4 linked regions of the Homo sapiens genome follow. The protein of the gene in region 2 purifies or fractionates together with the protein of the main gene of each other region. This does not show direct contact. Each region holds a gene or a part of one and is shown on either strand. Other genes may lie near its edges.

The links.
Region 1: the proteins of EPN1 (region 2) and LRP6 purify together in Homo sapiens (affinity purification with western blotting, with the first as the bait; one study listed by BioGRID). This does not show direct contact.
Region 3: the proteins of EPN1 (region 2) and KDR purify together in Homo sapiens (affinity purification with western blotting; one study listed by BioGRID). This does not show direct contact.
Region 4: the proteins of EPN1 (region 2) and ZDHHC8 fractionate together in Homo sapiens (co-fractionation; one large-scale study listed by BioGRID). This does not show direct contact.

The regions. Positions count from the first base shown.
Region 1 is NC_000012.12:12,158,725-12,162,544, forward strand, and holds part of LRP6 (low-density lipoprotein receptor-related protein 6 isoform b precursor), read right to left. Parts: intron 3,696-3,820; coding exon 3,469-3,695; intron 1,241-3,468; coding exon 1,056-1,240; intron 432-1,055; coding exon 105-431; intron 1-104. UniProt on the Homo sapiens protein: Component of the Wnt-Fzd-LRP5-LRP6 complex that triggers beta-catenin signaling through inducing aggregation of receptor-ligand complexes into ribosome-sized signalosomes.
Region 2 is NC_000019.10:55,684,915-55,688,734, reverse strand, and holds part of EPN1 (epsin-1), read right to left. Parts: intron 3,340-3,820; coding exon 3,090-3,339; intron 1-3,089. UniProt on the Homo sapiens protein: Binds to membranes enriched in phosphatidylinositol 4,5-bisphosphate (PtdIns(4,5)P2). Modifies membrane curvature and facilitates the formation of clathrin-coated invaginations. Regulates receptor-mediated endocytosis.
Region 3 is NC_000004.12:55,105,033-55,108,852, reverse strand, and holds part of KDR (vascular endothelial growth factor receptor 2 precursor), read left to right. Parts: intron 1-959; coding exon 960-1,116; intron 1,117-2,042; coding exon 2,043-2,166; intron 2,167-2,912; coding exon 2,913-3,021; intron 3,022-3,820. UniProt on the Homo sapiens protein: Tyrosine-protein kinase that acts as a cell-surface receptor for VEGFA, VEGFC and VEGFD. Plays an essential role in the regulation of angiogenesis, vascular development, vascular permeability, and embryonic hematopoiesis.
Region 4 is NC_000022.11:20,134,515-20,138,334, reverse strand, and holds part of ZDHHC8 (palmitoyltransferase ZDHHC8), read right to left. Parts: intron 1-3,820. UniProt on the Homo sapiens protein: Palmitoyltransferase that catalyzes the addition of palmitate onto various protein substrates and therefore functions in several unrelated biological processes.

The sequences.
Region 1 (3,820 bases), on a different chromosome or scaffold from region 2:
CTGGATTTCCACACTATTTAACTTTAGAAAAAACACACACTAAAGTACTTTGAAAATGCTGCTTTCTCTCATTCTAGCTTGCTTTGGAGGGAAATGCAGCTTACCACTACAAGTCCTGTTGTCAGCATTAAGAGAGTAGTGGGCAGGGCATCCACAAACAAAACCCCCAACTGGCACAGCCAAGCAGAGGTGGGAGCAGTGCCCATTGCTGGAAGCACATTCATTCCACCCTGACTGTCGAGATGAGTGAAAGACGAGGATGTCCATCACATAATCCAAATGGCCCTGAATGATGGTGCGGTTTTGGCCACTGGTTTTGTTGGCACGCTCAATGCTGCGTCGGCTCCAGTCCGTCCAGTAGATATAATCTTGGTACTGAGTTAAGCCAAAAGGATGAGGCAAGTCATCTGCTATAACTTCACGGTTGAGCCCTATTTTCAGAAAGGCAGTAGACAGGGGAGAAGCAGAGTGATGAAATATGTGAGAATACAAGTGTCTTGCTGGCAAAAAGAAAAAAAAAAGCCCTAACATATAAAACATTACATTGTAAGCAATTTAAAATAGAAAAATTCATTTAAAAGCAATTCTAAAACGAGACCAATTCTCTGAAATCAATCTATCTTCTGACCCCATGCTTCAAACTTATATTCCTGCTACAAATCACTCAGTTTCCTAAAATTCTTGCAAATGGTCTACTTTAAATGTGGTTTTATTTTCTCTATATAAGGGTCTACAGTTCACTTTTTCTTCTTGAACTATAGAAGGAAAAGATGGAAATATATATATTTTACTGGTACAAAAGTCATTTCAGGAGTATCTAGGGAGTTATAAATTTCATTACAAGTCCAATAATAATGAAACTTTCACATAATAAAAAGATGAATCCAAGTACCTGGATCACTATTAATAACAAACAGGATACAATTCCAGAACAGAAGAAGAATGGACACATTCATATGAAGTTGTATTAAAAGTATCTAACCAATGATAAATAGCAGCCACTGATATTTGCATGGAAAGAATATACTGTTTGAGTAAAAAGTAGTAAAGCTTACCAAGCATATTTGAAGATTCTATTAAGTTGGTGTCCAGGTCTGTCCAATAAAGCCTCCTTTTAGCATAATCAATAGTTAGGCCGTTTGCCCGCCCCACATTTGGAACTAAGGTAGTACGTTCACTTCCATCCATTGCAGCTCTGTCTATCTTAGGTTTTCCACCCCATTCAGTCCAATACATAAATCTAAATTCAAAATAATAAATATTTAACATTTCAATTTTTTATTATCTGGGGGAAAGAGTCATATTCATGCAAAGTAACTAAATAAATTTAAAGAAAACATACAGCAAATCAAGGAAATGGGTTAAACAAAATCACGGCTACAATGCTTTCAATTATTTTGGCACCCTAAACTAAATATTTTTTTCCATATCCCAAAAAGGAAGTGAGTCAGCTTTCCTTAGTCTTTCCAATACATTTGTTCCATCCAAACCTAGGAATTGGAAATAAACCAACAGTTTATTGCAGTACTGGCATTTGTAAAATTAACATTCAAGAAAACAGCAAAGGTTTAAAGCTCTGGTCTCAGAATCTGGTTCACTTCTGAGTAAAATATTTTTATATACTTTTGAATATTAACTAATTTGAGTTTTTAATATGCTGAACTTACTTTTTGACTTGTGTAATCAACTCTTCCTCAAAATAAGTTGCAGAAGTACATGAAAGGTAATTATAAATACTAAGCCTTTAACTGAAGTCAAAAGCAAAGCTTGAAAATGTATTTGGTCATATGGTCCAAGGGAGCATACTATATGGTAAGAACAACGACTCACCCCTTGATGTGTCCACTGGGCAATGAACACTACACTACGCTACAACAATCTCTGTGAAATTTTAGAATAATTACTTTGCTGTTATTTTCCATTTTTGAGTTTTGCACTTTAATCTTACAGTAATCCTACAGTATAGGCTTTTTATAGATGAAGAGCCCAAAACACTACAAGAAATGTGAACAACTTATCTAATGTCTTCAAGCCAGTTAGATGACAGAGCTAGAACTAGAACCTAATCCTTGGCCAAATGCCCTTTCAAGTAAACTAGTGAGGTGCTAGTTTTTGAGACTCTTGAATACTGGAACTAAAAAAGCACATCACATGCCAGCTCTCACGAAATACCTGAGGACATATATTCACTCATCAGCCTGTCAGCTGATAGCTGACTTGGTAGCAATGTATGAACATGCTTTTCTGAAAACTGAAGGTGTCCTGCCTTTATATGCATTTGCACTTGTCATTTGACAGGCATGTGCACACCACAAGAGCCAAAGAGAAACAACTGTGAGAGAAATTTCATACTTGCCAGCAGCAACCAATTAGTCCCAACTATTAAATTTATCTGTCTGGCAGCTAATGTTTAGAGCAAAGATCACCACAATATGTCAGTGCTGACTAGATGAATTACTAGCTAATCATGGAATCAATGTCACTTCAGGGAAATTATTTTAAGTAGCAAATACAGTAAACATATTTATATGTTCACACTGTTTACTTCTTTTTTTTTTTCCAAGATGGAGTCTTGCTCTGTTGCCCAGGGTGGAGTGCAGTGGCACGATCTCGGCTCACTGCAACCTCCACCTCCCAGATTCAAACAATTTTCCTGCTTTAGCCTCCAGAGTAGCTGGGACTACAGACACATGCCACCATGCCTGGCTAATTTTTTTTTATCTTTAGTAGTTACGGGGTTTCACCATGTTGGCCAGGCTGGTCTCGAACTCCTGACCTTGTGATCTGCCCACGCCTCGGCCTCCCAAAGTTGCTGGGATTACAAGCGTGAGCCACCACGCCCGGCCTGTTGACTTCTTTTATAAGTGGAATTTTTCTTTAGATTTCAGATTTCTTAGCTGCCGGCTTTAAAAAATTTGCTGACTCTTGTAAAAAGGAACACTCGCCCTTGAAAAACATCATGTTGTGAACAGTTTATTCTATCTTGTAATAACAAAGCTACTGCCAGTTTATAATAATGATCAAACCAAACTATCCATTTTGAATTAATAAATACTCCAAAATAAAGCTTTTTAAATGTAGTTTTTTCTTAGCTCACAACATTGTTTCGGTGGGTTTACTTCAATAGGCTTGGAATCTAGTATAACTGGGAAGGAGTGCAAGCAACTACAGATGGATAATACCTCTTGGTATATATACTTAACATATCAGTATACTCATCAGTAACATTTATTAACCCATTCCCCTCTTTCTTCACCTAAAGTTAATTACGACAAGAGTAAAATTAGCTAATAATTATTCATTCAAATCAGCAAAATATCAATAGTGTTTTTAAAAGTTCATCTATCATTTAGTTCTCAGATTCCTAATACGTATTATTTAAAACATTAAGAATATCATCTGTAACTATGCCATGTTCCCCGAAATGTACACTGCAGTTGCAAAGAATGCACATGTAAAGCTGTTTACCCTTCGGCAGGGTCCAACGCGAGAGCTCTGGGACTATCTAGGTCTTTCCACACCAAAACTTGTCGGTGCTGCCCATCCAACTTTGACACCTCAATTCGATTCGTTCCTGTGTCTGCCCAGTACAAGTTCTTCCCAAGCCAGTCTACTGCCATGCCTTCTGGATAATCTAAGCCGAATTCTACCACATGTTCCAGTGCACTGCCATTCATAAAGGCTCTGCTGATGGTCTGCAAAAGAACATTAACAACTAAGTCATATGGCATAAGTCTAAACCCTATCCAGAAAGAAGGTTTGGTTTGGTTTTTGTCAGGGGCAAGAGGATCCAGAAGTGCCAAGAGGCATACTATTTCCT
Region 2 (3,820 bases):
AGACTAGGACTGAGAGGCGGAGACCAGACGCCAGGTGCTCAGAGGAGGAAGGGTGGGGATGCAGGCAGCCCCACCCACGGGAGGGGCCAGGCATCAGGGAAGGACCAGAGCAAAAGTCAGTCTGATAAGCAGGTGGGGAACCCCAGCAACCTCTGAGCCCTGCCACCACCAGGACTCTCCGCGTGCCTGGGGTCTGTCCCTGGGCCCCTGGGGGATGGGAGGTCCTTCCTCCCAGGTTTCCCAGGCCTGTTTCCAGGGCTTGTTGAGAATGGTAGCTCTGGCAGGGAACAACTGGAATTCAGAGGGGAGAACAGCATCCATTGAGACAGCGGGATCCAAGGCCTAGTCGGGGTTAGGGAGTGGGCTAGCGAGGAGCCCTTGGTTCCAAGAGCAGGAGGGGAAGGGAGAGAGAGGACACAGGAAGGCAGGGCCGGACCCTCCAGGAGGCTGCTGAGATATCCCCGGCCTCCACTGCAGCATCCTCTCAGCAACCCCGCCTACCCTCAAACTCTGTCCTGACACTGTTCTCTCCACCCCCAAGGCCTGTGGACCCTTGCCCCCCTCCACAGTGCAGAGGACAGGCTCCAACCAGGCCCTAGGCCCGCCGAGCACAGGGCCATTGCCCCAGCCTCCAAAGCCCCAGGGCGGACCCTGCCTCTCCTGCCCCGCCCTCCCAACCACTGTGCACTGGTCAGCAAGTTCTGTCTGCTCCAGCTCCAAGACGCCGCCTTGCACCTGTGTCCTGTACTTGTGTCCCCACCCAACCCACTCCCCAGGCCCAGGCCTCTCCCTGACGAGCAGGCCCTGGCTCCCCTTGCCCGGAGCCGCAGCAGGCAGCTGTCTGGCGGCCCCACCTGCACCGGGTCCAGGGGCCCCCAGGCTGGCCCCCGTGTGGTGTGCCCAGCAGGGCTGGGTGCATGGGATGCTCCAGGGAGCATGTGGGTGGCAGAGCGGGGCCGAAGGGTGACCATCTGGGGTTATGAGTGAGGAAAGGACGAGAGAACCAGCAGGGATTGACGGACTTGGGTGGGTAAGCGGCCTTCTGAGGGGATGGGCAGATGGAAGGGCAGCGTGGGGCACAGGTGAGGCCAGCGCACAGGGAGGACCACACCCCTGTGGCCCCTCCTGCTCTTCCCTGCCCCTGTGACTTCCTCCTAAGCTCTAGGGACTCTCAGAGGTGAGTGCTGGGAATCTACACCCCATTGCCCAACCTCTACCTTGCACATGCCCCTAACCCCCCAGCCTGGTGGTGGCTAAATCCAATGCCCAGCAGCCCTGAGGGCCCCACCTCCCACATCACAGGTAATACTGGCACCCAGCCAGCAACACCCGGGCCTTCCCATCACCAGAGCACCCAGCCTCGGTGCTGCCCGGGGACCACAGGCCCTTCCCTGCCCACTGAGGGTCTCAGGGCTCACTCCCTAGCTGCCCCCATCCTCCTCCCCAGCCACAGCCCTCCACACAACTCACTCCAAGACAGGGGCCAGCACACCACAGTGGCAGCCACAGCTGGCCTGAGAAGGTCTAAGAAAGGCCTTTACATTTTTCAATGGTTGGAAGAAATGAAAAGAATGCACCAAGATGGGCGAAAATTCAGAGTACCCTTAAAAAATTAAATAACAACTTAAAAGTCTTAAAAAAGACACGTGAAAACTACATAAAATTCAAATTTCGGAGACCTTGGTGAGTGTCGGAGGGGTGCAGCTGCTTCCCAGCAACCGCCAGCGGACGGGGCCAGGCAGCTAGGATGGGAAGGCGTGGCCAGCAACGCAGAGGACATTAGCTCTGGCCTTGCACAAAGTCTGACGACCCCCGAGCCAGGATGTCCCACCCTCAGGCCTCTTACCTGAGGCTCCCACTCTCCTCCGAGCTACTGCCAATGTCCCTCCTCCGTCCACCCCAACCCCGCCACCCACCTGCCTGCCTGCCTGCCTCGAGCTGACCAGCCCCTCTCTGCCGCCTACACTCCCTCCTGTTGTCCCTGGCTCTGAGCACTCCCACGCCACACCGGCTTCCTTCCCTCCACTTCACTCTCTCTCTGCGTTCACGCCCATCTACTGGCTCGTGGGTCCCTACTCTGGAGTCCCAGGCAGGGTCGCACACACCCCGTCACACCCATGTCTCCCCGTGGGTGCTGAAAGGTGATCCCAAATGAGACCCGTCCAAACAGAAGGCCTAGACTTCCCCAAACAAGTCCAGTCCCTCGAGCCGGACCCCACGAGGGCCACAGGCCCTTCCTCCTGTCTGCACCGGCCTGGCTGACCCACCTCCACCTCCAGGGCAGTGCTCTAGCAGCCCCTCCCCATCCCACGTATCCCCACTAACTGAGGCACCTCCACTCTTCCTGGAGAGCAGAAGAGCCTGGCAGACATTCTCCAGCCTCCCTCCCAGTCCTGAGCAGCCGGACTAGCCTCTTCACGGCTGTGAGCCCCCGACCAACACAGACCACACTTCCTGGAACAGTCCGAGACCCACACACCCATCACATAACTGGAAATGTTTCGTGGGACAGATCTTGGCTTGACGATGTGGGATGCACTATTTCAAGTTTTGTTTTCGGTGCTGGTCACCACCCACCAGACTGAGTCCTCCACCTCCAGAAGGCACTGTCAAGGCTCCTAACACAGGCCCAGATGCCTGGTGCAACCTGCAGGCCCTGGCTCTGGCCTTCCTTCTGTGCCTCTTCCAGGCCCCCCTCTGCCTCTCCGATGTTCCCCTCATCTCAGCGCAGAGAGAAGGACAGCACCCTCGGGGGTCACTGTGCGTGTCCCCTCAGAGCCCTGTCCCCAGCACTGATCACCCTCAGGCCCTGAGCCTATGGGGGAGCGGAATAAAAGTTCCCAATTCTAGGCCTGCCCTGGGGCACGAGGCAAGAGGCAGGAAGGGTCCCAGAGCTGCTGCATGGGAGGTGCTAAGGGAAAAAAAGGGCCCAAGTGAGACCAGAGCAAGGGGCCCAGGTGAGGAGAAGCAAAGGGGGATGCCGCGGTCCCTCCTGGCTGGGAGAGAAAGCAGTGGGCGGCCGGGTGCCGGGAGCCGCAGTAGGCGGAGGACAGACTCTAGGCCGTCAGGGGCCGCAGGGAGGGACTCACCCGTGGCGGTCTGTGCCAGCTTTTCCTTGGTCTTGAGCGCGTGCGCCCGCTCTTCCCGCAGCCGGTCCTCGTCGCGCAGCAGGGCCACCAGCTGCTTAGCTTTCTCACGCACGTTCACGCCCTGGTCCTTGCCGTCGCGGTCCACGTACTGGAAGTCCTTCAGCGTCTGCACGGCGTACATGTTCTCCTTGCACTGCTGCGACACGCGCTCCGAGCCGGTCTTGATGAGGTACTCCATCAGCGTCATGGCCTGCGAGCGGGCACGGGGATGCCCGGTCAGCACGCCGGGCACAAGGCGGGCCAGAGACTGCCTGCGACGCGGGCTCTGGGGCGGCCGACTGGGCGCAAGGCCCACAACCCACCTGTCGCCAGTGGGTGGACACACATCTGTCCCCACAGAATACGACACGGCCATGCAAAGGAATGAACACAGACCCACGCTGTGACGGGGACCAGCCGCGGAGGTACTGCGCTCAGCGACAGACGCCAGCACAGAACGCCACACAGCCTACGGTTCCATCGACGTGAATCATCCAGAATGGGCAAATCCAGAGAGACGGAGTGGATTGTGGGTTGCCAGGGGTGGAGGGAGGGATGGAGAGGGACCACCTGAAGGCTATGGGTTTTCCTTCTGGGGCAATGAAGACGTTCTGGAGCTGGACAGAGGTGGTCGCCCAGCACTGTGAATGGGCCGAAGGCCACTGAACTGTGCGATATGAAGGGGGCTGCAC
Region 3 (3,820 bases), on a different chromosome or scaffold from region 2:
AATCTGAGGCTTTAGGTTGACAGTAATAAGGAAATAGTTTTGACTTTGGAGTCAAAAAAGAAAGAAAGGAAAAAGGGAGAGAAGAAAGAAGGAAGTGAGAGAAGGGAGAAGGAAGAAAGGGGAAGAGGGAAAGGGAGTGGAGAGGGAGGGAGGGAGGAAGAGGGAGAGAGAATGAAAAACTCAGATGATGGTGGCAGGAATGCATTCTCTAAAGATTTACACCTTCCTTTAACATGAGGTGGTTTACGTGTTTGGGTTCAGAAGTCAGAGTGTCTAGGTTTGTTCCAGGTTTTGCCGTTCGTTAACTGAGTGACCTTGGGCGAGTCATTTTTTTCTGTTTCATTTTTTTCTCACGTATAAAGCTGTGGACAGTAATAGTGGTTGTGAGGATTAAGTGAATGAATTCATGCAAAGCACTTCAAACAATGCTTGGCACATAATAAATGTATTTACTGTGCTATTTCAGCTGTTTTCTGTAGCCTTTCCCTGATCTCCTAAACTTGAGAGGACAGAGAGAACTATCTCTGTAATACAGATGAGAGGCACAGGATTTCAACACTTCCATAAAGTCATTCAGCTTGTTAGTTTATTATTATTATTAGCTTATTGTCATTTTTATTTTATTTCGTTACTTTATTCCTTTTTTTTTTTTTTGGTAGAGATGGGGTCTCACCATGTGGCCCAGGCTGGTCTTGATCTCCTGGGCTTAAGCGATCCACCTACCTTGGCGTCCCAAAATACTGAGATTACAGGCATAAGCCCCCATGCCTGGCTAGTTGTTATTTTTATGAGTATCACTAGAACTCAGGTCTCTTGTTTCCACATCTAGGTGTTCTTCGAAAAAGAAAGTGGAAGCAAAATCATATGCTTAAAGAAAGTCAGCTTTAGTTGCTAAAATCCTCTATTTCCCATTCTTCAAAGCTGACTGACAATTCAAAAGTTGTTTTTCCCATCTTCAGTCCCACCCCAGATTGGTGAGAAATCTCTAATCTCTCCTGTGGATTCCTACCAGTACGGCACCACTCAAACGCTGACATGTACGGTCTATGCCATTCCTCCCCCGCATCACATCCACTGGTATTGGCAGTTGGAGGAAGAGTGCGCCAACGAGCCCAGGTGAGTAAGGCCACATGCTCTTTGCTTTCCTGCCATCTTGCATTTCTTACAGCTGAGCTATGATATGACTCCATCCTAAATGGAGAAGCCTAAACCAAAAAAAGTTTTCTCTCAAGAGGTAGCCTGAATCTCCATCCATCTTTCTCTGTGTCTTACATTTTAGGGGATGTCTTTGCTTGGAGTATCCTCCTTTGGGGTTAGCTAAGCTCAGCCTTGTTAGGTTAGCCGTGAGGTACACTTCTCCAAACACAGGCTATTTGCTCAGTTTGCTAATTGCCAGTCTTTGGTTTTTCTCCCGATACCAATCGGCTGGTGAATACCACATCCCTCCTTCTTGTGTGTGTGAAGATCCATCTCTCAGAGGAAATGCTGATAGATGAGAGGCAGTGATAGACCCAGCCCCAGTCCTCAGGGTCTCAGGCCCAGCTTATCATGCTCTGACACAAGTCCAGACATCCTTAGGGAAAAACACAACAACAGCAGCCAACCCACCACCACCCTAAGCAGTCCACTTCCTGTTGTTGTTTTTGAAATGGCCACTATGAGCTTCTTCCTCAGCTGCTGATCATTTCCTTCACAGAGACCATGGTCCCAGAGAAATTACTTTAAGGAGCCCAGTGGCTTCTAAGTTTCCTTGCCTTCCTTTGAACTAAATTAACTTGAATTGTCTTGTCGATCCAATTTATGAATGAAGGTTTATTCCCAGAATAGCTGCTTCCCTCCTGTATCCTGAATGAATCTACCTAGAACCTTTTCCTTCATTGTCAATGCCTATTTTTAATTGGCGCCAAGTCTTGTACCATGGTAGGCTGCGTTGGAAGTTATTTCTAAGAACAGAATAACCAAAGTCTGAATCTTTTCCTTACTCTTGACTCTAATTAAAGAAAAATTAAATCATAATATGCGCTGTTATCTCTTTCTTATAGCCAAGCTGTCTCAGTGACAAACCCATACCCTTGTGAAGAATGGAGAAGTGTGGAGGACTTCCAGGGAGGAAATAAAATTGAAGTTAATAAAAATCAATTTGCTCTAATTGAAGGAAAAAACAAAGTGAGTTTGAAGTTTTAAAATTTGAAAATCTCTCTCTCTTTAATGGAAGGATGGTACAATAATATGTGAGGCATATTGGAGATTAATAATCAAATAGTCTGGATGATTAAATAGAGCGTATTAAGTCACTTTGAAAATACCATTGACTTTTAGCAGTACCATTAACTTATTAATAGCTTATCAGAGAAAAATAAAAACATCTATGACATTAAATCTATGCATCTGTGTAGGGTGATTCTGATTTTATAAACATGAGAATGAAAAAATGTGTATCATATCATATTAAAACACATCATTAGTTTCATGGCTTCCAAAGCCCTTTTTATATAATGTGTGAGCTCCACAGCAGCATAATTATACAAATTGAGTAAATATCCCAAACCTAAAAACCCCAAATCCAAAATGCTCCAGATTCTGAACCTTTTTGAGTGCCGACATGGTGCTCAAAGGAAACGCTCGTTGGAGCATTTTGGATTTTCAGATTAGGGATGCTCAACTGGTAAGTATACAATGCAAATATTCCAAAATCCAAAAAAAAAAATCCAAAATCCAAACCACTTTTGGTCCCAAGCGTTTTGAGTAAGGGATACTCAACCTGCAATTGCATAAATTTGAGCGTGTCCAACCGCTGCAGAAGTGGGAATGGCATAGGCAGGTTGGAGTGATTGTGGAGACTGCTGGACTGAGTGCTTGTGCACAAACAGCCGCGTTGTTTATGGCCTGGGATTTGTTTTTTCCCCGCACAGACTGTAAGTACCCTTGTTATCCAAGCGGCAAATGTGTCAGCTTTGTACAAATGTGAAGCGGTCAACAAAGTCGGGAGAGGAGAGAGGGTGATCTCCTTCCACGTGACCAGTAAGTACTCTTCTCTGGAGGTTTGGGTTGGATCACTCACACAGTGGGTACTAAGCTATGTAATTCCCTGTTGTTTTTGCCATTCATGTGAGTGGCATGGCATTTAGGAAAGAGGACTTGGATTGATCATTGATGCTTTCATTCATAAATTACAACTTCTCAGGTATCTCCTGGGCTTATGTGAAGTCAGTGCGTCTAACTACACTGGAGAGAGAATGGTTTCACAGATGCTTTAAACCACAAGCTCTGTGTGGTATTTACATCTCAGTCTTCAGAGTCTGGCACAGTGCCTGGCTTATTGAGCTTCAGTACATATTGGTGGGCTTGCTGTGGAACAGTTGATGAGGGTGGGCTTTATGGAGGCAATCAGAAGGACATAGGAGCAGTGCCCTCCCAATGCTGCCGATTTTGCCTGTGCATCTTAGTTTTATGGATAAGCTTTAGCTGATTGTGCTGAATGGAATATTATAGCCAGGGCTAATTCATTGGCATAAATGTAGCTTTCATATCATTGAGTGTTAGTGTTAATGAAGACCTAATTTTAAAATTCTGTTAGAATTAGAGATTTTGCTTTGGATTTTTAATATATTAAACATTGCGTAGAGCTCATAGTGGAGATGTGGTAAATATCTGAGGAATTCGTTTACATTTTCAAGTAATGTGTTTGGCCAAATAAGATATTTTGGGACCTGAATTGTCTAGTTTGTTTGTCAAGTTGTAGTACATCACCTGGAACGGATAGAGCTTCATTTCTTTTGGTACTTTGTAGTAGTCTGAAAGCAGCAAGATGATAGTGAGC
Region 4 (3,820 bases), on a different chromosome or scaffold from region 2:
GCCTCAGGCTCCTTGTCTCTCCCCTGCGCACCCTGAGACAGCTGCTGTGACAAGCAGCAGGGACAGGAACACAGGGGTTTGCGTCCCTCCCTGCACCCAGGCCCTCTGCATAGTCGGGGGGCTAGTGGGGATCCCCCACAGCAGCCCTGACCTCTATGGCCACTAGCAGTGGATGGGGCCCACGCGCTGCCTACCACTCCAGCGCACGTGGCCACGCTGCTGCACCCACGCCCGCCTGGCCAAGAGCCAGCCCCGCCGCCCCGGCAACCACCTCCACGGCAGCAGAGCTTCACTATTTTTAGTGGAAAGCAAGAGGCTATTTAAAGACTCCGCTTCCCACGACAGCCATCCTCGGCGGGGCTGGGAGCCCAAGTTACCCTTCCTCTTGTCCAGGGCCCAGCCCGTGGAGGTAGACACCAGGGTGAGGACACAGCTGCGGCCACACCTCCCTCTGCTGGGAGGGCTCTCCCTGTCCCTGCCCAGTGGCTCAGCCCCCAGGCTTCCTTCCACCCTCCCCAGCCCTGCCTGGCACACAGGCAGCACTCAAACATGTGCCTGGCCTCCAATGCAACGCCATTCAGCCAGGACCACAGGCCCCTAAGGCAGGGTCGGCCCAACAAGATGGGCACAGGCAGGTGAGCAGCTCCCCCAGGGAGAGGCAGGGCCTGTGGAGCTCTCCACGAGCCTTCTGGGGAAGGCTGGCTACATAGTCTGTGCAAAATGAAACTGCGGGCCCCTTATTTAAAAATTACAGAGAATTTCAAGATGTTGACAGCGGAGCATTAAACCAAACGCAGGCCCTCATGATGCCCGTGGGGCTGGCCTGCTCTGGGAAGGGATGCGGCGAGTGCCATTGGTCAACCCTCGGGCTGCAAGGAGGCAGCCTCTGTCCTCCCAGTGCTGACCTCAGGATGGAAGCCTCGGGGCCCCTCTGCACCTGCGCTGGCTGCCAGCCTGCCTCCTGGCCCTAACGGGGGCCTTGGGGGTGTGTTCGCCCATCAGGCAGGCGGGGCCTGAACCCCATGCTGACTTGAGCTCCCTGCCAGCCCAAGCAGGCGGTACTGCTGTGTCCTCCCTGAGCCTGGACTCCCCCACACCAGGCGGGCTGGACAGCAGCCTTGCAGCCGTGGGGCTACTTTGGGAAATCTGCAGTGTGACCGGGTCCCTCCTGCCCAGTGCGGGTACCTGCCACATGCCTGTGAGGGCCCATATGGGCCCTAATCCAGGGGTTGGGGAGGCTTGTTGTGGGTTCTCTGACTGGGACCTGAGCTGCTGCCCACTCCTCCAGTCCTCCAGAGTGAGGCAACTGTCCTCTCTGTAGTCCCCAAGGTCAGATCCTGCCTAACAGGGACCAGCTCACAGGCCAACCCACCAGGGCCCAGAGCTCTCAGGGCTCAGTGGGAGAGAAGATGAGGAGCACACGCAGGCACCTACAGACACGTGTGAAGACATGGACACACACACAAACATGCTCCAGGGCACATGTGCATGGGTATGTGTGCACACACACAAATATACAGGCATGTACACACATAAACACACAGACAACCTGTTCTGGTGCACAGAAGGCACACATGCACACATGCAATCATGTCTGCATACAAAACACATATACATGCATGAACACTTGCATGCAGACATGCACACGTGCACACACTGGTGCACATGCATGAACGCAGACACGCCTGCACATCACTCACCCACCAAGACCTATGTGTGAACACGCGTGAACACAGGCATGCATAGACACATGCCTCCTCACACTGCACCCAGCCCTATCCAGCCTCGGCTCGGCTGCCCCTCACTCTGGGCCTCAGACACGGCCCTCCCACTCTCTGGGCTTCCCTTTGCCCCTCTGTGGATAGGGCAAGTGTGAGGACACACAAGCACTCTCAGGGTGCGCAAGAACACGGGAGGACACACAAGGACATGCAAGGATGCATGAGGACACATGGGGACAGGGGAGGCCATGTGTGGATGCTCAGGGACACTCAAAGACACGCATTCCCACAGGCAGGGCCTAGCAGGCAGTAGTCTGGGTCCAGGCTCGGGGAGGCTCCACTCCCACCCAGACCTGATGGTGCACACCAGGCTCGCCTGCCGGAGGGCCAGGCAAAGACAGGCTCTGGGCCTGGGCTGGAGGTGGAGTGTCTGGCCCGCCATGTCCCTCTGAGCCCCTCCTGGCTGGCTCCAGCCAAGCTACGGGTGGAGGGCAGGTCCAGGGGGCCCAGCCCCGAGGTTCCAATCCCTCCTCCAGGGCCACAGGCAGGGACATGCACCACCACCATAGGCCCCACCCGGGCTGAGGCCCCAAGTCCCGCCTGGGCTGGCAGGGAGATACCGCCGAGCAAGAGGGGTGGCTTAGGGGCAGAATGTCCGCCACAGCTAAATGTGGAATGGAAAATTTTAACTCAGACGTTTTCATTTAAATCAGGTTCTTCATTAGCACTGTTTGTGTATGAGTGGCACTCGCCCGTGGGGCGCTCGGGACCGGCGGGGCAGAAGCTGCTGCGCCCTTGTCAGGCCAGGCCTTTGGGCCTCGAAGTACCTGCACCTACCTGTCCAATCCCTATAGACACCTGGACAGATGGGGAAACTGAGGCTCGGGGGCCAGGAATACCCCAGGCCACATGCGGTGGGTCCCAGCAGGGGGGCTCACACTGAGTTTTCACTCCCAGGTTCCCCAGACTCATGAGGTCCCAGTCAGCAGTTCAGTCCCTCCTGGCCCACCAAGGCTAGTCTGGCCCAGGGCCTGTTCTGACTGCTGTCCTGAGCTGGGCCTCCAGGCAAGGAGAGGGCTCAGGACGATCTAGGGACCAGCCACACCATCCCAGATGCCCCAGACAGAGATAAGCCAGCCTGGCTCAGCCCCAGGCACTGGCAGCCTGCCAGGCAGCCCCAGCCCTCGGACATTCACAGGGTCCCTGTCATTCTGCAATGTGGCTCTGGAGTGAAGTCAGGGCAGGGTCGGGAGCCTGGCCTAGGGGTCTTCGAACCCTCTGCCAGCAGCTGACCCAGCCTAGCATTATACCATGGTATAAAGGGCTTCTGAAGCCCAGGGGGATACAAAACCCCCAGAAACATAGGAAGGGGCCGGGAGCAGTGATCACACATGTAATCCCAGCACTTTGGGAGGCTAAGGCTGGCAGATCACCTGAGCTCAGGAGAATAGCCTGGGCAACATAGCGAGACCCCATCTCTACTAAAAAAAAACAAAAAAACAAAAAATAAATAAATTAGCCAGGTGTGAGGGTGCCCACCTGTCATCCCAGGTACTCAGGAGGCTGAGGTGGGATGATCACTTGCGCCCAGGAGGTCGAGACTGCAGTGAGCCGAGGTAGCACCACTGCACTCTGGCCTGGGTGACAGAGTGAGACCCTGTCTCAAACAAACAAACAACAACAAAATCCTAGGAAGGCTTCCTGAAGGAAGAGGGCCTCTGAGAAACTGCCCTGCTGTATGTGCCCCATCCTGAGAGGGTGCTCTTCACAACTGGGCATCCTTCCATGCCCAGACCCTCCTAGAGAGATGTGTGAATGTCCTGCTGGTCCCAAGACCCTTGGCGATCTGGCTGAGGGAGGGGTCCCTGGTTCTCAGGCCTCCAGCTCCCCACACCACATGACACCCAGAACTCCTGCCCACCTGGTGCATGGGTGAAGCCACCCCACCGGCAGCAACTCATGTTTACTGAGTGCAGAGAGGGGGCTGGGGCCACTCACTGTCTGGTAACGTCCGAGGAGCAAACAGTGAAGTCGGGAACCCTGTATAGGCACTAAGGGCAGGGATTCGGGGCACAAGAGCAACCTGCTCCCCTTCCTGT